4 linked regions of the Homo sapiens genome follow. The protein of the gene in region 2 purifies or fractionates together with the protein of the main gene of each other region. This does not show direct contact. Each region holds a gene or a part of one and is shown on either strand. Other genes may lie near its edges.

Region 1 (7,038 bases), on a different chromosome or scaffold from region 2:
CGGTATCTCATGGAAATGTGACTCAGCCACCATCTGCTGAAATGCATCTCCATTTCATCTTGGCTCCCCGGTCCTCCCCAGCACTGCGTTTCTGTGCTGACGAATGAGCACTGAGAGGCTCCTTCCCTGCTTTCTGCTTCTGTCCTGCCGCTATGGGTCGTGGACATTTGCCATCAACAGGCTCCCTGTGGCCCGCGCCTCCTACTGGAGGCACTGAGGGAGGCGCTCCCACCAGCACACCGGGTTACCTGCTTGGCTGCAGGGGTTGTGTTGTGGGTGTTCTGGTTTTGGATGGGGGTAGAGGCCCTTTATAAAGTTTCAAGGGGTGAGCTGGAGTCTACTTCTCATCAAAGAAGCTGGAGGCTAAGACTGACACTATGCCAATTGGAGAAGACCAGAACCAGGGGCTCCCCTGCAGATCAGAAGCGCCTGACTGGAAACATAGCAGGGCGATGGGAGGAAAGACAGACTTGTTCCCTATGGGGCCCGAAGCCATGGGTCCGGGAAAGAGCTAGACAAAGCCAGCAATGAGTGATCTAGATCAGAAGTGGTGGCATGAGGAGATGAGCTTGGCAGGAGGGAGATGAAGGAGGGGCCACAGTCCCAGGCTATCTCTCAGATAAAGGAGGGCAGGATGCTGAAGGGCATATCAGGTCCCTCTGGGCCTGCTGGCACCCAGGCAAGATGTGAGGCTCGACCCACCATTTTCTACCAGGGGTCAAGCTGAATGGGCCAGGGACCTTGTCCTTTCCAGGAAGGGCTTAGAACTTCAGCAAGTTCCAAGCTCAGCCACAGGGAAAGGTGTCTGCAGGGCAGCTGATGCAGTCAAAAGTGCAAGGGGAGGAGTGACAGGAAGCGGGCAGAGACTCTGAACTGCTGGGGTGCAGCGTCTAGGCTGTGAGCTCCTAGGTGGCCTGGGGATCCCTGGCTGACTATGACCTCTGACCTGCAGTGACCTCTTGGCTCAACTGTCCCCCTTGACCATGACCCTCATTACTGTGGGTGCCCCCTGACCAACTGGGAAAGTCTGGTTGACGTGACCCTCTCCTGGGTGGATCCCAATGTGACTGACTGGGACCCTAAGGGGCTTGCTCCCCTTGACCCACAGTGACCCTTCTGCTGACTTTGACTGCAAGACTGGGACCTCTTGTCCAACTCCAACCCTTGCCTTGGTGGTCCAGGCTTTTCCTGACCACATATGACCCTAGGCCAGTGGGACACTCTGTGTCCCCTCCATGTCTGTCCCCCTCTGGCTGCCGGGACCCTGTGGTGGGTTGGGACCATTTGGTCACTGATGTCCTCTTGACCAAGGGTGACCCCTTGACTGAACCAGACTTTTTGGCCACTTGGGACCCTAATGACCCTCTGACTGACCCTGGTCCACTGAGTGACTGCCACCGCATGACTGGCTACGCTCTCCTGACCAACGGGACCCTCTTCGGTGGCTGGGACCCTTCATCCCCCTGGGCCTGATTGTGACCGGCTGCCCCCCATGTCCTCTGGTGCCCCAGCCCCTGCCCGCCTGGGAGCTGGCGTGGGCAGTGCCAGCCGGAGGCAGTAAGGAGTCACACTCACGCCCGGCTGCAGCAGGAGGAAGGCTGGTCGGAGAGGAAAGAGCATTGGACAACGACACGCGACTAGGGCTAGAGAGATTGGCTACATCCTGGCTCTGGCTGGTGACCGAGGACTGTCTCCGCAGGGCCCCCTGAAAGGAGGCCCCGCTCTTGAAAGTATTGACTACTTCAATCTGCAACGGAGGAGAGAACGAGACAAGTTGCGAGAAGAACGAGCACAACGGCTACATGACTGACAGGGCAACGTCACAAGAACAGCCGCAGCCACGGCAACAACGACAATGTCACTTAAATCAAAACAAAAATACCAGACACACTCCAAGGCTCTGAAAAACGTCTGCTCAGCTCTGGGCCCACCTGCAGGCCCCAGGGTCCCCGGGAGGACACAGGGGGTCCGGCCTTTGTCCTGTGCTAGTGGCTCAGGGGCCAGTGGGCTGGCCAGTGGGGGAGGCAGTGATTAAACATGGTATCTGGAGGGAAGAGAGCAGTGTTCAGCCTCCCTCAGGTACAGGCGTGGAGGTAGAGGGTGTGGTGGGGGTCCTGAGGTGGACAGAGCTTGGCCTAAATTCCAGCTCTGTCACTTACTAGCTAGCTGACCTTGGGCAAGCCACCTCTCTGAGTCGAGTTTCTTGTTCTTAAGAAGGGTCAATGCCACCTGCCTGGCAGGGTTATCTGTAAGTGGCAAAGCACCTGACCCGTGTTAGCATTCCGCAAGAGGCAGGCAAGACAGGCGCCCCTGCCCACTCAAGAAATCGCAGTCCTTGCTTCCTCCCGTAATCTGGAGACCCCTGCGTGGCTTTGCCGCCAGGGCAGTGACAGCACCAGGGACATATTCACTGAGTTGTCCTGGACCTCCCAGGAGGTGGGGGCAGGCTGGGAGGGGTGGCTGCGGGGCCCTAACCAGGGAGGGTGAGCCCAGGCCCGTGTCAGGCACCTCCGGGTCTGAAACCGGCTTCCAGTCCCCACCCCAGCTGTGCCAGCTCAGTAGAAGGGGCCATCTCCTGGACCTTGGTAACCTCTAAAACTGGGGGAGTCACATCTACCTCCCAGGGCTGTGAAGGTCACATGAGGTGAGGTTTGGGACAGGGTACAGAGGGGTGGGAGGTGACCCAGGTGAGCTCTCTGCTACATCGGATGGAAATGAGGTGCTGGGCCACAGCTGGCAGGATGGTGGCCAGGTGGCTGCTTCTACACTGCACTTCGCCCAAGCATGCTGGGGCATGGAGGAGCTCCCACTCCAGCTCCCCAGATGGTCTGGGCAAGAGACCCACAGAGTCCCTTCTGACCCTCCCCTCGCAGGGCTGTGACAGCACTTGTGAGCTACAACACCTGCTCCAGGCATAAGGGGACCATGTGAGAGCATGTGGTATGTGTGTGGGGGGGTCGGGGGAGGCGCGCAGGTGTGTCGTGTGCCACGTGGCAGCCATGCTCTCTCTGCTCTGGGGAAGAAACCTGCTTCTGGCTGGCTACGCCCTGCACCTGTGCTCCCCTGGTGTGCTTGGTGTGTGCATGTGTGTCTGTGTGTGCTTGAGGATGACTGACCTTTGCTCCCCAGAGCCTCTCCACCCCCTAGGGGAAGCTGGGGAGAGCAACTGAAGCCCCCGTGGAGGCGGCGGACCCCCTGACCACCACGCCCTGGGGGACCCTGGGCGACCTGGCCTGCAGCTTCTGTCCAGCCTCACACGGCCCCTGTGGGTGGGTGCCCCCAGCCCTGAGCGACAGTCCCCTCACTCACCTCTGCCCTCAGAGCCACCCTTCCCCACCCTCTCAGGGAAATCCCCCTGGAGACCATGGTGGGTGTGACCCCTACCACTTCCCCGTGCTGCCCTGAGAGGGCACAATGGGACCTCTCTGAGGAGGCCGTGCTGTTCCTTAGCAGCCACAGGAGTGGGTGTGCAAGTGGCTGGTGAGAGCTGGCCGGGACCCCTCTGTAGCCACCCTCCCTCAGCACCAGAGCTGGGCCCTGGGGGGCAGCACAAGCACACTCACCTCCATCCCCTGGCCCGCCCCGGCCAGGCCTGGGCCCAGCCCCCAAGAGCCTCCTGTACCTGTGTCTGGATCCGATTCAGGCCTCGGAACCACAGGATCTGGCCCCGCCGCAGCTCCCGCTCCGCGTGGTCGATCTCCTCCACGTCCTCGTTGAGCTCCTCCTCCGGGATCTCCTCCTTCTGTGTGAGCCTGCCTGCCTCCTTGAGGAACTTGAGTCTGCTGGTCGGGATGGTGGCGATGACCTGCAAGGGACCCTGTCTGTCAGGACGGTGGGGCTGTCCTTCCCAGTGGCCTTCTCTCCCTGACACCCGCTCCTCTACCTCCCTCCTCCTACCCGCTCACCCAGGCATGTGATCAATCTACTCCTTCACCCACCTCACCTGTTCCTCAGCCCAGTCTTTGACAATGTCTTTTTTTTTTTTTTTTTTTTTTTTGAGATGGAGTTTCACTCTTGTTGCCCAGGCTGGAGTGCAATTTGCTTTTTAATTCATTCATTCAGAGTCAGGGTACATAGTGGACAATCTTGGCCTCTAGGAGTTGGACAGATGTGGCTTTGAATACCCCAGACAACCCTGGTCCTGTGGCCTCGGGCAAGTCATTTAACCTCACCGAGCTTTGGTTTTCCTAGCTGTAAAGTGGGGGCCGCTCTGGGCATGGTGAGAACTGGGCACGGTGGAGGGTCTAACTCGTCCTGCATGAGCCTGGCCCGTGGCTGGCCCTCGGTTCTCCTGGGGTTACTTATTCCTCTGTCCCTTATTCCTCCTGAGGTCACTGGACCCTGAAGGCAGCCAATCCTGGACTGGGAAGGCAGAATGGGAAAGAGCTATGCCTTCATTCCTAATCTTCCCCAAAAGGCTTGTCCATGGGGCTGAGGACCCAGACGCAGGCCCTACAGGAAAGCTGCGGTGGCAGATATCAGAGGCCCCTTCCATTTCCTGTAGGAGCAGTCAGGCGCTGGCATGAATGCAGCCTCAGGGGGCTCCCTGGGAGTGTAAAGTCAGCACTGCCCGCTGGCATTAACCTTTGTCCTCTGAATCCTTCCCTCAGTTACTGGGCCCAGCCCCCAAGAGCCTCCTGTAGGGGGTGGGCCCCAGTGGGATAAAGATGGCCTGGCCCCCAGGGTGCCCAGGGGTTTATCACTCTCCAAAGCAGCCCCAAAGGTTACAGGAAGTCCTTTTGGATGAAACTAAACTTTCTTATTTATCTTTTAGTTAATTTTTGCCCCCGTAGCTTCTCACTCTAGCCTGCAGACAGCTTGAAGGCAAGAAAAATGCCTCCCACCCATGGGGTCCCACTGCCTGGATGTGTGAGCACCTTGGGAATCAGGCCCCTTAGGCCCTGAGTTGGTTCTGGGCCCTCCTCCCAAGCCCTGTGTCCTGGGTCAGGAGCCTTTGGGCTGCATGCTCTCAGAGCTGTGACAGGGTCTGGAACTTGGGCAAACGTAGAAAAACGAATTGGTGGGAGAATATTCTGGGACAAAGCTGGAAGGGCCCCTAAAGAGCATCCAGCCCAAGGAGCCCCAGAGCTGGGGCAGGCACAGCACTGAGGCCACAGATGGCCACAGGCACAGCACTGAGTAACACCGCAATGTGGCAGAGTGTGTCCTGCTTGCGTTCCCTCTGAGTGCTCTAAAGGATCCTGATTGACGCCAGCCGGCCACCAGCGCCCGCAGACCACTGATTCATCTCCCTTCCTAACAAGCTGCTCCAGCCTTGAATCCCTGGCAGGCCATGGCTTCTAGCTGGAGTTTAATAATGTCATTCTCATTACATTAATGTTTTTGTTAGCTTCCATTTATGACAAGTGATACTGATTTTTCAGTTGTCTTAGTAACAGGACGTTGCCTTTAAAAACAAATTTAAGTTAAAAAAGCTGACGTGATTGAGAGAAAATATTACATAAACAACAGGAGCAGTGGTAGATAGATATAAGGCAAAAATCAGAGCAGTAGTACCCAGACGACCAGTATAGGACCTGGGACAAACCCCCTTGCTCAGATGTCCAGAGATAGGGAGGAGCTTGCCTGGGGTCTGGCAGCCCATTCCTGGGGGTCCTGGATTCTCCATCCAGTGCTGTCTCCCTTGCCCTGCTAACAGGCACCTCCTGCGACCTACCAGGAACTTACCTGGCCCCAAACGAGCTCTCCTAACCCAATGAATATGCACCACATCCACTGGTCCAGCTGCAGTGGAGAGCAGCTGAATGGCTTCCCTCCAAACTGCACGATCACTATCTGGAGGTCACAGGGGAGCAGAGAAAGAGAGAGAGAGAGGCCATCAGGGACCAGCACAGAGGGCTGGGCTCTCAGGGTCCTGCCCAGGGGCTCCAGCCGCTTGCTGCCCACCCCGGGCCTGGTTAGGGTGGGGGCCTCACTACCTGGATGGCAAAGGTGCCCAGCACGATGGTGCAGAAGATGGGGTTCCGGAAGATGCCGTCAAAGACATTGCGCTCGCCGTGGATCTTGCGGGCGTTGATCTCGTTGAAGAGCTGCATCATGACGAAGGTGTTGAAGATGATGGTGTAATGTTCTGAGGGTGGCGAATGCAGGGGCGCGTTCCTCCCGCTGTCGATCTGGAACATCTTCTCGCCTGCCAAGTGAGAGAGTGGGGCTGGGCTGAAGGCAGTGGTGGGGGAATCAGAGGGGAGATGCCTGGCCTTTCGTGGGGGCCTCTTCTGAGCAGTGACGTGAATCCCCAAGACATCAAGGCATGCTTGGACAGTGGGGGGCCAGGGCTGTGCTGTCAGCTGGTCAGAGACTAGGACTGAAGGGTCAGCAAAGCCCTTTCTCCTCTGGGGAAGAAAGGCCTTGGGCAACTGTCTTCCACTTTTTCTGTGGAAACCCGATAAAGGTGGACGGCCGGCTGTGTTAAAGGTGGGCGACATGGCTTCTAAAAAGTGACCTCAGACTGGAAAACTCATTCTGGACTGCGAGGACAGGATACCTGCGGGAGGTTTTGCGCTGCCCCGAGAGTGCTGCTTCTTGTTCCTGAGCATGTCCCTTGCTGAGACCTCTACAAGCTCATGGGGCTGTTACTAGAGATGCCAATTCCTATATGGAGCCCAGGACTTCTGGGCTAGGCTGGCTCTGGACCCTCCCATGTGGCTTCATTCTAACACCTGAGCTGTCACATGGCAGGGCACTGCTGTGTAGACGCTGCTGATAGGGTGTCTGATGCAGTCCTGTATCCTTTTTGTTTTGTTTTGTTTTGTTTTTGAGATGGAGTCTCGTTGTTGCCCAGGCTGGAGGACAGTGGCGTGATCTCAGCTCACTGCAACACCCGCCTCCTGGGTTCAAGTGATTCTCCTGCTTTAGCCTCTCAAGTAGCTGGGATTACAGGTGCGCACCATCACGCCCGGCTAATTTTTGTATTTTTAGTAGAGATGGGGTTTCTCCATGTTGGCCATGCTGGTCTCGAATTCCTGACCTCAAGTGATCCACCCGCCTCGGCCTCCCAAAGTGCTGGGATTACAGGCA
Region 2 (7,038 bases):
GAGAATTTCCCAAATCATCAAATTCTGGTTCCCTTTTGCTTAACAGTTTTTCCTTCTATCTCTTTTTTCTTATATTTCACTAATCACCAAGAAACCAGTCCACACCTTTCACTTTGCTTGGAACCCTCCAGCTAATTATTAAAGTTTATCACAAGTTCTGCTTTCCATGTAACTGCAGGATACAATCCAACTAAGCTTTTTACTGTTATATAACAAGGATCCTCATCCTTCCAGTTTCTAATAACACATTCCTGATTTTCTTCTGAGCCCTCACCAGCAATTTCTTTAATACGCATATTCTAGGCATGGCGTCTCACGCCCGTAATCCCAGCACTTTGGGAGGCTGAGGCCGGTGGATCACTTGAGGCCAGGAGTTCAAGACCAGCCTGGCCATCATGGTGAAACCCCGTCTGTACCAAAAATACAAAAATTAGCCAGACATTGTGGCACGTGCCTGTAATCCCAGCTACTCAGGAGGCTGAGGCAGGAGAATTGCTTGAACCCGGGAGGTGGAGGTTGCAGTGAGCCGAGATCATGCCACCTTACTCCAGCCTGGGCGACAGAGCGAGACTCTGTCTCAAAAAAAAAAAACATTGCATATTCTTACCAACAATCTGCTTGTGATCATTTAGATATCCTCTAAGACAATACAGGTTTTCTCTACTCTACCTCACTTTCTTGAGTCTTCACTAGCTGAGTCATTAACATCCATATTTCTATCTGCAGGTTATTCAAGGCAATCTAATCTAGGCTTTTTAAAATCATGTCCTCACAGTTCTCTCAGCCTTTCCCCATTACCCAATTTCAGAGACACTTCCACATTTTTAAGTATTTGTTACAGTAGCACCTCATTTCCAGGTACCATAATCTTAACTGTATAATCCATAGCATCCTATTGCAGCCATAACAAATTACCACAAATGCAGTATCCTACCTTTCTGAAGGCAGAACTCTAAAATGTGTGGGGTCTGTGTTACTTTTTGAGGCTCTAGAGGAGAACCTGTTTCCTTACCGTTTAGAGTTTCTAGCGGCTACCCGTATTCCTTCATTTATGGCCCCACATCACTCTGACCTCTGCTTCTATCTTTATATATCCCTTGCCTCACTCTGACACTCCTGCCTCCCTTGTGTGAGGACTCTTGAGATTACATAGGGCCCACCTAGATAATCTATAATAATCTCTTCACCTCAGCATCCTTAACTTAATCATATTTTTAAAGTGTCTTTTGCCATGTAAGGTAACATATTCATAGATTCTAAAGATTAGAATATGGACATCTTTGCTGGTGGGGCAGAGGGACATTATTCAACCCATCACATTTGGAAAGCGTTATCTAATTGGCCACATTTTAAACGTGGTGGCTTGCGTTTCCTTTAGTACCAGGGTACAATGAGAATGGAACAAAAACCTCTTTGAGTGTAACCAAAACAGGGTGCCCAGAGGTGGTGTATGGTCTCCATAGTGCCTCATTGAGTAACACTGCTCTCCTCTACTCTCAGAGCTTTCATTCAGGTGAAATCATGATAAAACATCAGGGGCTGCCATAAGGAGAAAAGATGCAATGACATTTGTCTGTGAGGGGATCATGCATTCAGGGATATGTGTTCAAGTGAGGAGGAGGTAATATCCCCTTGACATATTGAATGTATTAATATATGTACATACATGAGCTCCTCTGGCTCCATTTGGCACAAAATGGCAACTCCCCCAATCTGTTATAAAAGCAGTTCTAACCACATAGTATAGTTTACTTTGTAATATAATACATTTCATTTCAGAATAAGACAGGTGGTAAAGATCCATATAAATTAGGGGTTTCTCAAATCTAGAGTAGGAGAGGTCTTTAATATTAACTCACATTTTGCCACATTTTACACACTAACAGCTTCTGAGCTCTGTCTCTCATTAGCTGCCATGTTGATGATTTGGAGCTGTTGCTTGATAGCACTGCCTGCCAACGGCCCAAAGGAGAGGCATTCTGGTTTTATAGTCAAATGAGTAAAAGAACAGAACGTAAACTTGTCTCATGCACTAAAGTAGATGAGACAGTAAATTGTTTTGATTTTGTTTTTGTTGTTAATTACCAGGCTTGTATCTCTGGGAGCATATTTTTGAAGGCTTACTTGATCCCAGCGATGTGACTGCTCAATGGAGAGAAGGAAAGTCAATCGTAGGAAGAACACAGTACAGGTATTGGTTGTATTAGTTGTGCAACATTAACCTTTGATGTTTTGCTCTGCAATATTTTCTGTAAATACTAAAAGAAAAATAATAGGAAAATATATTTATAAAAATACTTCTATTTCAACTTGTAAAGAATAGAGAAGTAAATCTCATGAATATGTATTCATAATTAAGCTTACTTGGACCTTATGAAATTGTATATTACAGAATACTCCTTTTTGGCATCATATGTCTGTTTTATTTTTACCTAATTATATAGAAAAGTTCATACTCCACATCTTACAGCGTTTGAATGGTGACAGCCATTGAAAACATTCTGTATCTTGGAGGAATAATATGTAAACCTAAAAGTATTTTCATTTTTCTCTTTCATGTAATAGTCATGTTCACTTTTTAAAATATTTAGGTGATATCAAAGCTCTTGCTGTCACTTTGTAGATTTTTGTTTATTAAAACAAATTTGATGAGTTCTATCAGGATTTATTTTTTATTTTAGATTTAATAAAGCCAATGTATTGCTTAGACTTTTTTGGCCTTTTTATATAACTCTTTTCTATGACTGCATATTTTCTGAGTGTTTTTAAGTATATTAGGATTATTTTATTTAGGAAAACTATAATTTTATCATATGAAATGCTATTTTATTAGATTTTGCTTTATTGAAATTAAAAATAAAAACATTATTTTTAAATGCTTATTTTATATAACAGTTGTATTATTGGGGGAAAATGTGAACTAAAGATTCTGCTTTGTATTGGAATTTCAGTCTTTTCTACAGAAATCAGGAAAGGAAAAGCTATAGTTAACCTCAATTTTGTTCTAATTTTTACTACAGCTTTAATTCTTTATTTACTTTATATACACTTGGAAAGCAGTTTTATTGCATGTATCTTTTCAAAGTTAAAAAGTAAACAGGTTTTTAAAATTATCATTGGTAATGATTATTTTTCCTTTCATCTTCATGCTTCTGTTGATCTAATCCCATTCAAGAGCTTAAATAGACTTACAATGGTTGGATTTGGGTGTGTGAAAGTAAATGTGTATTATGTGTATAAATCTAATATTTTGGTATTTGAAAAGTAAATGTGTGTTAGGAATATTAGTCTAATCCATAATATATAAAATTTTCAGAAAAGTTATTAAAAATTCATAAAGTTAGCATCTTTAAGGTTAAAATTATACATTGTTACTATAATAATAGTGAAAGATTTGAGCAAAGAACATTAACTCCCAAAAGAAAGCCAAATGTATCCTTTACTTCTGAAATATTTGTGGGAGATTTTACAGGCATCCTCTAGAGATACTGCGTGTTCAGTTCCACACCACTGCAGTCAAGCAAATACTGCAATAAAGCAAGTCATATGAATTTTTTTATTATCCAGTACATATGAAAGTTATGTTTACACTGTACTACAGTCTATTAAGTGTGTAATAGTATTATGCCTAAAAAAAAAAAATACGTACCTTAAGTGAAAAATACTTTATTGCTAAAAAATGCTAACAGTTATCTGACCCATCAGCAAGTCATCTTTTTGCTGGTGGAGGGTCTTGCCTCGATGTTGATGTCTAATCAGTGTATTGATGACTAATCAGGGTGGTGGTTGCTGAAGGCTGGGGTGGCTGTGACAATTTCTTAAAATAAGACAACAATGAAGTTTGCCACATCAGTTGACTCTTCCTTCACAAAAGTTTTCTCTGTAGCACATGATGCTATTTGGTGGCATTTTTACCCATAGAACTTCTTTCAAAATTGGAGTCAATCCTAGGCCGGATGCAGTGGCTCATGCCTGTAATCCCAGTACTTTGGGAGGCTGAGGTAGCTGGATCACTTGAGGTCAGGAGTTCGAGACCAACCTGGCTATCATCGTGAAACCCCGTCTCTACTAAAGATACAAAAATTGGCTGCAAGTGGCAGCACACACCTGTAATCCCAGCTACTTGGGAGGCTGAGGCAAAAGAATCCTTGAACCTGGGAGTCAGAGGATGCAGTGAGGTAAGATCATGCCACTGCCCTCCAACCCCGGGCGACAGAATGAGTCAAAGAAAAAAAAAAATTGGAGCCAGTCCTCTCAAACCCTACTGCTGCTTTATCAACTACATTTTTGGAATATTCTGAATCCTTTATTGTCACTTCACCAATGTTCACAACATTGTATCTTCACCAGAAGTAGATTCCATCTCAGGAAACCACTTTCTCTGCTCATTCATAAAAAGCAACTCCTCATCTGTTGAAGTTTTATCATGAGATTGAAGCAATTCAGTCACACCTTCAGGTTCCACTTCTAATTCTACTTTTCTTTCCATTTCTACCACATCTTCAGTGACTTCCTCCACTTAAATCTCGAACCCCTCAAAGTCATCCATGAGGGTTTAAATCAGCTTCTTCCAAATTCCTTTTAATGTTGATGTTTTGACCTCGTCCCATGAATCATGAATGTTCATGGTATCTAGAATAATGAATCATCTCCAGAAGGTTTTCATTTACTTTGCCCAGATCCATCAGAGGAACCACTGTCTGTGGCAGCTATAGCCTTATGAAAAGTATTTCTTTTGTTGTTGTTGTTTGTTGTTTTTTTTTTGAGACAGAGTCTTGTTCTGTCATCCAGGCTGGAGGGCAGTAGCGTAATCTCAGCTTCCTGCAACTTGCGCCCCTGGGTTCAAGTGATTCTCGTGCTTCAACATCCCAAGTAGCTGGGACTATGGGCATACGCCACCACACCCAGCTAATTTTTGTATTTTTAGTGGAGATGGGGTTTCACCATGTTGGCCAGGTCTCCTGTCTCGGACTCCTGTCCCCAAGTGATCCACCCGCTTCAGCCTCCCAAAGTGCTAGGATTACGGGCGTGAGCCATCGTGTCTGGCCAAAAAGTATTTCTTAAATAAGACTTGAAAGTCAAAATTACTCCTTGATCCATGGGCTGCAGAATAGATATTTTGTTAGCAGGTATGAGGACATGAATCTCCTGTACATCTCCATCAGATCTCTTGGGTGACCAGGTGCATTGTCAATGAGCAGTAATATTTTGAAAGGAATCCTTTTTTCTGAGCAGTACTTCTCAATAGTAAGCTTAAAATATTCAGTAAACCATGCTGTGAACAGATGTTGCTGTCATCTAGGCTTTTTTCCATTTATAGGGCACAGGCAGAGTAGATTTAGGATAGTTTTAAAGGTCCTAGGATTTTCAGAATGATAAATGAGCATTGGCTTCAACTTAAAGTCACCCAGCTACATTTAGTCCCTGATAAGAGAATCAGCCTGTCCTTTGAAGCTTTGAAGCCAGGCATTGACTTCTCTCTAGCTATGAAAGTCCTAGATGTCATCTTCTGCTGATATAAAGCTGTTTCATCTGCATTGAAAATCTGTTGTCTAGTGTAGCCACCTTCATCAATGATCTTAGCTAAATCTTCTGGATAACTTGATGCAGCTTCTACATTAGTACTTGCTGCTTCACCTTGCATTTTTATGTTATGGAGATGGCTTCTTTCCTTAAACCTCATGAATCAACCTCTGGCAACGTCAGACTTTTCTCCTGCAGCTTCCTCACCTTTCTCAACCTTCATAGAATTGAAAAGAGTGGAGGCCTTGCTCTGGATTAGGCTTTGGCTTAAGGGAATGTTGTGGCTGGTTTGATCCTCTATCCAGACTATTAAACCTTTCTCCATATGAGCAATAAGACTATTTCACCTTCACATCATTCATGTTGTTCACTGGAGTAGCACTTTTCATTTCCTTCAAGAACTTTTCCTTTGCATTCCCACCTTGACTGTTTGGCATAAGAGGCCTAGCTTTTAGCTTGCCTCAGCTTTTGACATGCCTTCCTCACTAAGCTTAACTATTTCTAGCTTTTGGTTGCAAGCTTCTCCAACCCACCTTATTTTATTGTTGTTGTTCTGTTTTGTTTTGTCTTAGGCTTTTAGCAGCCTGAAGCCATGGCTTTTAGTTTCTGTCTTTAGTAATAAGCAGAAAAGAGGGATAAGGAAGGGGTTTTACTGGCCCAACCAGAAACAGAAACTAAGAATCCATGCCTATATTCTCTCCCTTGGACACTCCTGAAAGTGAGAGACTTGCGACTCTTCCTTTCACCTAGAGGGCATTCATTATAGGGTTATTAATTATAGGGAACACTTAGAGGGCATTATAGGGTTAATAATTGGCCTAATAGTGTTGTGTCTCAGGGAATAGGGAGGCCCAAGGAGATGGGGAGAAATGGGGGAATACTGGTTGGTGGAGCAGTTAGACCACACACATAGCATTTATCTATTAAGTTTGCCATCAGATCTTGTGAGACTTATTCACTATCATGAGAACAGTACAAGAAAGACCTGCCCCCATGATTCAATTACTTCCCACCGGGCACCTCCCACAACATGTGGGAATTGTGGGAGCTACAGTTCAAGATGAGATTTGGGTGGGGACACAGCCAAACCATATCACCATCTCATAGTGAGCACATGCTGTTGGAAAATGGTACCAATAGAATTGCTTGACTGGGGATCACCACAAACTTTCAATTTGTAAAAAACTCTTTATTTGCAAAGTACAATAAAGTGAAGCACAATAAAATGAGGTGTGCTGGTATTATGGCCAAAGAGTAATACCGTTTCCTCTTAGGATTTAAGAGAACTATATTCAAGAAAGGTCACCATTGTATGAGATTTTTTTTAAACAGCTTATTAAAGTGTTAGGTTCATGAAAAGTAGCGTACATAATTTATCCAAAATTAATAAACTTTTATGCAATTGTAAGTCTTCAGTTGAAACAACTACATGGGTACTAACTTAAGTGTTTCCACACATTCACCATCCTTGTTTGACCAAAAGTGAATCAGAAGTAACGGCTCACCTTGAAGATA
Region 3 (7,038 bases), on a different chromosome or scaffold from region 2:
ATGTGTAGGTACCACCTTCTGCCAAACACAATATCCAATTAAATGAATTGATTTAATGTACATGGAAGGCACAATTAACTATACAAAGAGCCCAGACCACAAAGAAGTTTCCTGATCTGTGTGCAAACACAGCCTGCCAGTAAGCACACAGGGATAAGATCTGGGAGTCTGCCAAAATATCAAATTAACATACAGAAGGAAGAGAGGGAGAGAAAAAACAAGATAAAGCTCCCAAATAAAACGAAGATGGAAGGACTGGAAAACTAAGGATAATAAAAAGCTGAAGAGAATAAAATATGATCATTATGAATAAAGATCCTAACAGCAACATTGCCAACTCTCACACCAGAGGACTTACAAAGAAGGGTATTTTATAAACTTTAAAATCAGCAACCACTCAACCACACGTGAGTAATCTGTGAGATGCCAGTGGTTCAACACACGTTACCTTTTTGGCATAGAGCACAATTTTCTGGAATTGGCCTGTTTCTGCAAAACACTGGATCACTTTGCTTGGCACATTTGCCCGAAGGTACACACTCAGAGCGAGCATGGGGTCAGTGGTTTTGACCAAGTCTCCGAGCTCCTCTGAGCACTCCAGCTGTGGTATGCCAAGGGACAAGGCAAAGTTAGGAGGCAGGTAGGGAGCCTGGACCAAGTTTTCAAGCTGTGCGGGGGGGCTACGAGCTCACAAGTGTTTCTACCTTATCTTCTTTCAGCCACTTCTCTAGGAGTTGCTTACGCCCCTGCTGAAGAACCAGATGGCAAAGTTCTAAGGATTCAAGTTTATTGAGCTGACCCTGGTCGAGCAGGATTCCGAAGTACTGCAGCAATGGAGAAGCCTGGCCAGACTGAGCGGGTATACTCTGGAATTTCTGGACCGTCTCTCTGGTACGCAGGATTCCCTAATAATAAATGGAAAAATAGGTCATTGTGTTGTAATCACAGGGGATCCCTTCACTCAACTTCCTTGTATGTAAAAACAAAAATCTGCCAGTGGAAATTCCACACTGCTCTGTCATAGACAAAAAGTCCTCTACCAAGGCAACTGCTTCTATCTTCAACAATAACCATAAGTATAGGGGAATCTAGGTCCTCCAGGTGGCTTCACACTTAGGGTCTTACTTCTCCCCCAGCATGCTGCAGTAAGAATTCGGCCTCTCAATCAGTCTTGTAGTAGTGAAGTTCTGCTATCATTATATTCTAATTCAAAATACTCAAATTCACAGATGAAGGCTAGAAATGGTTTGTTCACAACTACCCCTTGAAAGACAAGAAAAATTCTTTCAAGGACAAGCAACTTGAAAGTCTTTATCTACTCAGGAACAGATCCAGTCTCTGAACAATTTATCCAAATGAAATAAACCCAAGAAAAAGCCATATGCCGAAATGCTATATTCTAAAAGAGTGGAGAAAGTCCAGGGTAGGACTATCGCTAGATAAAACAGGGAACAACCACTTGATGTATTGTACAGTTGCATATTTGACAACCAGGTAGCAAGAGTGGAAAATGCTAAGTTACAGAAATGTGAAACTGTATCTAAGCTGTTGGGTGAGAGGTACGTATGCACACAAAGTGGGAGGCGTGAAGAAGTGCCGATGCAGCAAGAGTGTGTTTTTTGTTTACTTCCTTTACTGTTATGCCATTGGTGCAAAAATTTTAAACTAAAAACTCCTAACATAACACTAATAGACTGCAATATCACTAGTGAAATGCTTTTATGACTTATTTTCCTCTCAAGGTTGGTTCTTAACACTCAGAACACTTGAACAGTATTCAAGGTTTATCACCTTTGGTGCAGACGCTGCAACTTTGGCGGCTTCAGCATAGCTGCCCTGTGCAAAGAGGGTATTGAATTTTCTCACAAACAACTTCTCTGCCCCAGCCAGGTTACTACGAACGGCCAAACGCAGACCAAGGTCTGGATTCTGAAGCACGTTGGTTGCATAATTCACAATGTTATCTTCCTCAACACAAACTGACAGTACCTGTAAGGACACAACAAGTGAGAGCAGCCCGGCCTAGAAGAGTGCTCCACCATCCCTCTGCCATGTTCCCTTCCGATGCTGGAGTGGTAGCCACATTCTCAGGCGAGTGTTGAGCACACCTGTGATGGTGGCCCTCACAGTGAAAGGAGGCAAAGCAGCCGAAAGCCAAATGGTAACAAAACAGAACAGCATAGGAGTCTATGTAGTTATTAAAGTCACACAGATAAGTGTGATGCGTTCTGCGCTACAGCAAAATGACCTATGTGGATGGAACTGACAATTTTTCTTCTTAAACTTTTTATTTTTAAAGTACAGAGTTTCTTTCTTTTTTAAAAAATATTTTTGTAGAGACAGGGTCTTACTATGTCGCTCAGGCTGGATTCAAACTCCTAGCCTCAAGCAATCCTCCTGTCTCAGCCTTCCAAAGTGCTGGGATTATAGGAATCAGCCACTGTTCCCGACTTTTTTTTTTTTTTCCCCTGAGACAGGCTCTCACTGTTTCACCCAGGCTGGAGTGCAATGGTGTGATCACAGCTCACTGCAGCCTCAAACTCCTGGGCTCAAGCCATCCTCCTGCCTCAACCTCCCATGCAGTTGGGATTACAGGCATAAACTATTGTGCCCAGCCAAGAGTTTCTTCTTTTAACTATCTTTTTCAACTATGGTTGAGAAAAGTTACTTAAATACCATAGTATCTGCTTTTTCAACCCTCCCCAGTTAGGGTGTGCATGGTATAAAGATGATGTGCATCAGAACTGCTGTTCTATACGCAGGAAGGAGCTGCTCTCCTCCTGGAATCAATCCTGTGTTAGGAATGGTGCTGTCTGAAGAGAGGAAGTGTCAATATGAAGGAGGAGACATGGGTTTAAGTTTAATAACAGGAACTATTAATAGCTACACCCAGCTGCTTTCCTAGAGAAGGGGGAAAGTTTAAACGCCAGTCCCTAATGAATGGAAAAGGTAGAAAATGAAATGTCAGAGTTACACACCTGTCCCTTTTTGTTGACACCAATAATTCCAGAGGTTGGTTTGTGTGGAGCAGTGACAAATATTGTGTCAGCACTAATACGGTTCATGCAGATGCACACGCCAGACTCTAGGTCGTACAGATGAAGATAGCCATACTTTGTGATCAAGTAAATAACACCATGTTTAGCTCCAATCTATAAGAAGACAGAGAGCAAGAGGTTGGAAAGTAAGGAGGAGAAGCCATGCGGGTAAAAAGAGCTCACAAATGATAAAGAGGATTCTTGTTTGTTTGTTTGTTTTTTGAGATAGGGTCGTGCTCTGTCACCCAGGCTGGAGTGTAGTGGTGCCACCATAGCTCACTGCAACTTCCGACCTCTGGGCTCAGGTGATCCTCCCATCTCAGCCTCCAATGTAGCTGGGACTACAAGTGTGAGCTGCCACACCTAGCTATACAAGGATTCTTCAGTTTCTCAGGCCGAGAGATTACTGGTGGGAGCAATGCTTTCCTGAGACATGGATTCTAAGTTGTACTTGATTGAGAATTAGTTTTAAAGACAATATTTTGTCCAACCACTCTCAAATAAAGGTCCAATAAACTCAGGCTACTCCATTTATCTTTCAGGTAGAGCGATCCTTTCACAGTTTATCGAACCCCTTTAAGCAAGCTGTGAGTTCATAAGAGAAGGGGAAAGTTCTGGACAAAGACCTCAAACGCCAAGATGATGTTCCAGCATGCCTTCTACCACCACTTATTAACCTTTGAGTTTTGCCAAATGCTATTAACTTTTACAGAAAAATATTTAACACACAAGAAAACCTGAAGGGGCTGGGGAGAAAAAACAGATGCATTTGCCCAACCAGATTATTAAACATATATATTAAAACAGACAGTAATTTTTGAAGTATGATTTTACCACTGGAAGAGACAGAGAGAGAAAATAATTAAGAGCCCTGAAAGAGAATGAATCATATATGAGAATTTATTAAGAATGAGTGTGTGGTGGCTAATGACTATAGTCCCAGCTACTTGGGAAGCCAAGGCAGGAGGATCACTTGAGCCCAGGAGTTTGAGTCAAACCTGGGCAACGTAGCAAGACTCCAACTCTAGAAAAATAAATAATTAGTAGGTAACATATTAGTGGAAAATAGGCACTTTAATCAATATATAACATATATTATTAATATAGTTAGCTAGCTATCTGGAGATGGAGGTAAGAGTAAAGAACTGAATTTCTATCTTACTCTTTAGATCAAAGTAAATTCCAGATGGGTCAAAGATTTTAAATAAAAAACAAGGACAATTAGGATAGGAATGAAAGAAAATATAGGTAAATGTTGTGATCATCTTCAGGTGCAGAATTAGTCTCAAAACATGATACCACTGCCACACAAAAATGCAGCACTTCCATAAGGTGCCACATATCACAAATTACGACTGGGAAAAATATTCAAAATACATCAGACACTTAGTACTCTACAAGTACAAAAAGCTCTTACGAATAAGGTAAAAATCCTGGAGTTGGGCACAGTGACACACACCTGTAACCCCAGCTGCTTGGGAGGCTGAGGCAGGAAGATCGCTCGAGGCCAGGAGTTCAAGACTGGCCTAGGCAACATAGCAAGACCCCATCTCTACTTTTTAAAAAAAGATCCCAATAGAAAAAAAATGCAAAGATTAGGAAAAGGCAATTAACCGGATACATATGAGTGGCTGATACATCAATTCTGCCTTGATGGTAACCAAGGGAAAGACATCACAACATGGGATGCTGTCCAGCTACCACCGGCAGCATCAGTAGGAATGTGAACTGGCCAGCATGGTCAGGAGAGTCTGTGATGAGAGTGTGCCCCTGACCCAGCAGTTTAATTTCTAGGAATTTATCCTCGGACTTTTAGACTAACATACAAAGATGTATGGAGCACAATGTTCCTTATAGTGTTTCTTGTAAATGTAAATACCAATCAACAGGGGATTGTTTAAATGAGTTGTAGCAAATCCACAGAACAGATGACACAGACAATAAAATACATACATTATGTTACTGGAACAGAATGATCTACAACATAGCTAGAGGAGTTTATACAGCAGCAAGGCTAGTGCAGAGCCATTTTCATAAGAGTCCATCTGTATAAATCTGCACAAATGTATGCATGTTAAGTTACTTCCAAAGGGGTAGCCAAATTATCAGCAGTGCTAGGATTTCAGGTGATATTTAATCCTGCTGTTACATTTATTGATATTATTAGAAATGTACAGATAACATATATTTTATGAGAACAAAAGAGTAAAAAGGAGAGTAGATTATATAATCTTACATATATAATGTGATGCCAATTTTGTTCAGAAAAGGTATAGATCTAAATTTTTTATAAAACAAATTGTAAGATTTTTTATTTTTATTCTTATTTATTTATTTATTTATTTTTTGGAAATGAAGTCTTGCTCCAGGCCGCGGTGCAGTGGCATGCAGTGGTGTGATCTTGCCTCACTGCACTCTCTGCCTCCTGGGTTCTAGAAATTCTCCTGCCTCAGCATCCCATGTAGCTGGGACTACAGGTGCACACCGCCATGCCCAGTTAATTTTTTATATTTTAGTAGAGACGGGGTTTCACCATGTTGCCCAGGCTGGCGTCGAACTCCTGAGCTCAGGCAATCTGCCCGCCTCGGCCTCCCAAAGTGCTAAGATGACAGGTGTGAGCCAACGCGCCCGGCCAAGATTTCTTATATATTTTACATCCAACTGGTTTATCTACAGAGGAATGTTTTCTGACTCTGTGCCTTTGACACTTCCACAACAATATTCTGCTCCTCAATAAGGAAAGCACACTTGATCCTGTCACGAACACACTTAGCACACACGGAACCACCACAGGCCCTGCTGACATGTGTTTCTGTTTTAGGGAACCTCACAAGAACTTCAGGTCTCATAGCACGAACTCCTCGAAGTCTGGCTAGGCACATGCCACATGCAGGTTCAGGTGTTTTCCCAACCTTCTTGATGTAAAGGTGAATAATTCTCCCACCAGGGGCTTGGGACTACCTAGTTTCACTAGAGGCTGCGTGTCAAAGGCTGGGCCATTCTGAATGCCAGCTCAAAGGACTGTCCCTGGGAGCTCTAGGCTCCCTCAATGGCAGCCAATTGTAAAGGAAATAAGTGTTTTATTCTTTTTTTTATTATTATAAGTTCTGGGTTACATGTGCAGAACGTGCAGTTTTGTTACACAGGTATACACGTGCCCTGGTGGTTTGTTGCACCCATTAACCCGTCACCTACATTAGGTATTTTATTCTTTAAATATTCTCATACCACAGTGAACATCTAATCTTTTATAATAAGAAGGAAAGAGCTGAGGACTTTGATGTGTGACTTGGCAACGTCTTCCTGCTGCCCTAACTCACCCTCATGCCGGGCATTCCTTTCTACGAACAGGGCTTTCCCAGCTCACACGCCAAAGCCTTAGGCCTCTAAATGGGTTTGAAAGCATCACAGTGGCAGGAGACAGCAGAAGCAGACTAAAAATGGCAGCCTCCTGTATCTTGGGAGGTGCTAGAGTAGATTTTAGGACATGAAGATGTTTAGAGAGCAGCACATTCGTACCTGCATAGCCACTGGAAAATCATTCTGTGCCTCTGGAGGAAAAAACACATCTACTGCTTTCTTTACAAAAGGTTGGTTTCCCGCTGCAGGCTGTCCAACTTCAATGATGTGCAACTAGAAGAGAGATTTTAGGTCAATCAAGGGGACCGCCTGTGGTGGTGGGCAAGTGCTAGTCAAGGCACAGAGGCAAGTGGAGCCTCAGCTCCACACACTGGATGATTAACGCTAAAAGTCACATTCAACCAAAGCAGAACAACCCCCTTGTCGGAGTGCCTGTGATTATCCAATAACCTGCTGCCCACCACCAAGCATGGCACAAAGGGCCAATGCCAGGCAGCCTGGAGCCTCAGTTCCAGCACAGTGGCAGAGTCACTTCCCCTCCCCGGGCCTGGATGCCGATGAAACAAAGGGCTCCAGTCAGAATCTGCTGTCCCTTCCAACTCTGCTCTCTGCCTTTCTGGGTATGGCCCAGACTCATACA
Region 4 (2,903 bases), on a different chromosome or scaffold from region 2:
AGGATCTCACTTTGGCACCCAGGCTGGAGTGCAGTGGCATGATCTTGGCTCATTGCAGCCTTGACCACCTGAGCTCAAGCAATCCTCCCACCTCATCCCTGCCAAGTAGCTAGAACTACAGGCACACACCACCATGCCTGGCTAATTTTTTTGTAGAGACAGGGTTTCACTGTGTTGCCCAGGCTGGTCTCCAACTCCTGAGCTCAAGTGCGCCTCCTGCCTCAGCCTCCCAAAATGCTAGGATTACAGGCATAAGCCACCGAGCCCAGCCTAGTAAGGCAGTTTAATGCTATGTGCAAAAATCGTAACATGGTGCAGTTAACGCATTCCAATCAACCCCTGAACACGTACCTGTGATTCATCTCTTAATGTTCACTGACCAAACCTGTAACTTCAGCATACCCATGAGACAAACTGTTTTAAAATTTTGCTTTCAGGATTTCCAGTAGCAAGTGATATATAAAGATATTAGGTAGGTATTTAACAGTTATCACATCCAGGCCTGGCACGGTGGCTCACGCCTGTAATCCCAGCACTTTGGGAGGCCGAGGCGGGCGGATCACAAGGTCAGGAGATCGAGACCATCCTGGCTAACATCATCTCTACTAAAAATACAAAAATTAGCCGGGCGTGGTGGCGGGCACCTGTAGTCCCAGCTATTTGGGAGGCTGAGGCAGGAGAATGGCGTGATCCCAGGAGGCAGAGCTTGCAGTGAGCCGAGATCCGCCATTACACTCCGGCCTGGGCGACAGAGGGAGACTCCATCCCAAAAAACAACAACAACAACAAAAAAAAAAGTTGTCACATCCAAATTTTGAATTCAGGGACTTTATTTTCTTTGAACCCCCACAGCCAGCTTGTTTGGAGGCATCGGAATGCAGAACTGTTGCAGTTCAGTTGAAAGCAATGCCATCTAGTGGTGTGTGTACAGCAGGTCAAATGTTAAGCGTAGATTTTCTAGTAGAAAGTAAATTATCTTTAGGTCTTGCTAAAAAACATTATGTTTCAAGTTTGCCTCTTTTAACTGCTAAAAAGGGCAGCTACTAAAAACTAGGACTCAAAAACCTATTTTTAGTTCTTCCATCAAAATCTTACAAATAGAAGAGCTTCAGTATGCAAAGTATTTCTTGCAGTTAAATTTGTACATTACAAAATGTCTCTGGACGGATTCACAAGAAACTGATAATGTTGGTGGCTGCCTTTGGGGAGAGGACTGAGGAGCAGGATTTTTCACTGTATAGCTATAGAATTTTTATGTGTATGACCGTATTAAATTGTTTAAATACATGTTACTGAAATTTTTCTTACATAGGTCATGAATGAAAAACTTCAGCACTGCATGGAACTAACAGATCTAATGCGGAATCACCTGAATGAGAAGAGGGCACTCCGCTTGGAGTGGATGATTGTCATCCTCATTACCATAGAGGTAAGATGGAAATGCTCTGTACTATGATCAGTTACCATCTTTTCACAAATACAGGGGCTATGCTAATAAGATAGTTTGAGATAGAAAATTATTAGCAGAAAAGAGGCTGACTTTGTTATCATTACTAACTCTATTTGGAAGTTTCAAATTACTATTTGCAAATGCATTAAAAGTAATTCTTGAAAAGGTTCCACTTTTTAAAATTTGAGAGTAGACCTCAAGGTTCTGCTTTTAAAGACAGCATTTGGAAAAAGTTCTAGCTGTAAATTTATAATGTACAGCTCAACATCAAATCAAGCACCCGTACCTCCAATTCATAGGTTGCCACGTGAGAAAGGGCAAACATTTACCTTACTTCAGGAGCATTTCTCATTAATCACAATCTTGGAAGTCATTTTAGTTTGTACCCATAATTTGCCCGTCATGAAATAATTCTCACTTTCTATTCTAAGGTAATGTTTGAGCTGGGACGAGTATTTTTCTGATCAAGTGATAACCAAAGTGTCACTGCAAGAGATATTCAAGTTCTACAATCAAAAATTAAATGTTCGGCCCGGCGCGGTGCCTCATGCCTGTAATCCCAGCACTTTCGGAGGCCAAGAAGGGTGGCTTGAGATGAGATCAGGAGCTCAAGACAAGCCTGGCCAACATGGTGAAACCCCATCTCTACTAAAAATACCAAAATTAGCCAGGTGTGTTGGCACACGCCCGTCATCTCAGCTACTCAGGAGGCTGAGGCAGGAGAATCTCTTGAACTTGGGAGGCGGAGGTTGCAGTGAGCTAAGATCACACCACTGCACTCCAGCCAGGGCAACAGTGAGACTCAGTCTCAAAAATAAACAATAAAATAAATAAATAAATGTTCACTACTGGGTGATCATTTAATAGGTGTTTTTTTAATCAAGAAATTATCTTTTTCAGCCCAGTATATCGTGTGAATAAAATTATGAAGAATCTAGTGTTTGTATCTACATCACTGACAATTCAAAAGGTAAATATTTCAGTTAAGAACTTTGGAAAACTAGCATCTAGGAAATCTTGGCAAATCTTGGCAGATACTTCTTAAAGTCACAGGACTTAGGTTTTAGACACCACAACTTAACCTATCCCCAGGGAATCCCATCATGGCCCTGGCTAAGAGAATCATACAGGAACTGAAGTGTTTAAATCAATATATACAGGCCGGGCGCGGTGGCTCACGCCTGTAATCCCACTTTGGGAGGCCGAGGCGAGTGGATCACAAGGTCAGGAGATCGAGACCATCCTGGCTAACATTACACGGTGAAATCCCGTCTCTACTAAAAATACAAAAAATTAGCTGGGTGTGGTGGCAGGCGCCTGCAGTCCCAGCTACTCAGGAGGCTGAGGCAGGAGAATGGCATGAACCCGGGAGGCGGAGCTTGCAGTGAGCTGAGATCATGCCACTGCACTCCAGCCTGGGCATCAGAGAAAGACTCCCGTCTCAAAAAAAAAA

What was found.
Region 1: the proteins of RXYLT1 (region 2) and ATP2B2 purify together in Homo sapiens (affinity purification with mass spectrometry; 2 studies listed by BioGRID and IntAct, with this or other methods). This does not show direct contact.
Region 3: the proteins of RXYLT1 (region 2) and CLTCL1 purify together in Homo sapiens (affinity purification with mass spectrometry; 2 studies listed by BioGRID and IntAct, with this or other methods). This does not show direct contact.
Region 4: the proteins of RXYLT1 (region 2) and RMND1 purify together in Homo sapiens (affinity purification with mass spectrometry; 2 studies listed by BioGRID and IntAct, with this or other methods). This does not show direct contact.

Annotation. Positions count from the first base shown.
Region 1 is NC_000003.12:10,334,554-10,341,591, forward strand, and holds part of ATP2B2 (plasma membrane calcium-transporting ATPase 2), read right to left. Parts: intron 6,152-7,038; coding exon 5,940-6,151; intron 5,797-5,939; coding exon 5,689-5,796; intron 3,806-5,688; coding exon 3,623-3,805; intron 1,748-3,622; coding exon of another isoform or gene 1,576-1,747; intron 1-1,575. UniProt on the Homo sapiens protein: ATP-driven Ca(2+) ion pump involved in the maintenance of basal intracellular Ca(2+) levels in specialized cells of cerebellar circuit and vestibular and cochlear systems.
Region 2 is NC_000012.12:63,782,882-63,789,919, forward strand, and holds part of RXYLT1 (ribitol-5-phosphate xylosyltransferase 1), read left to right. Parts: intron 1-2,088; coding exon 2,089-2,191; intron 2,192-7,006; coding exon of another isoform or gene 7,007-7,038. UniProt on the Homo sapiens protein: Acts as a UDP-D-xylose:ribitol-5-phosphate beta1,4-xylosyltransferase, which catalyzes the transfer of UDP-D-xylose to ribitol 5-phosphate (Rbo5P) to form the Xylbeta1-4Rbo5P linkage on O-mannosyl glycan.
Region 3 is NC_000022.11:19,232,718-19,239,755, forward strand, and holds part of CLTCL1 (clathrin heavy chain 2), read right to left. Parts: intron 6,672-7,038; coding exon 6,558-6,671; intron 3,153-6,557; coding exon 2,979-3,152; intron 1,990-2,978; coding exon 1,792-1,989; intron 906-1,791; coding exon 705-905; intron 602-704; coding exon 449-601; intron 1-448. UniProt on the Homo sapiens protein: Clathrin is the major protein of the polyhedral coat of coated pits and vesicles. Two different adapter protein complexes link the clathrin lattice either to the plasma membrane or to the trans-Golgi network.
Region 4 is NC_000006.12:151,404,246-151,407,148, reverse strand, and holds the end of RMND1 (required for meiotic nuclear division protein 1 homolog), read left to right. Parts: intron 1-1,312; coding exon 1,313-1,429; intron 1,430-1,881; coding exon 1,882-1,914; 3' UTR 1,915-2,387; downstream 2,388-2,903. UniProt on the Homo sapiens protein: Required for mitochondrial translation, possibly by coordinating the assembly or maintenance of the mitochondrial ribosome.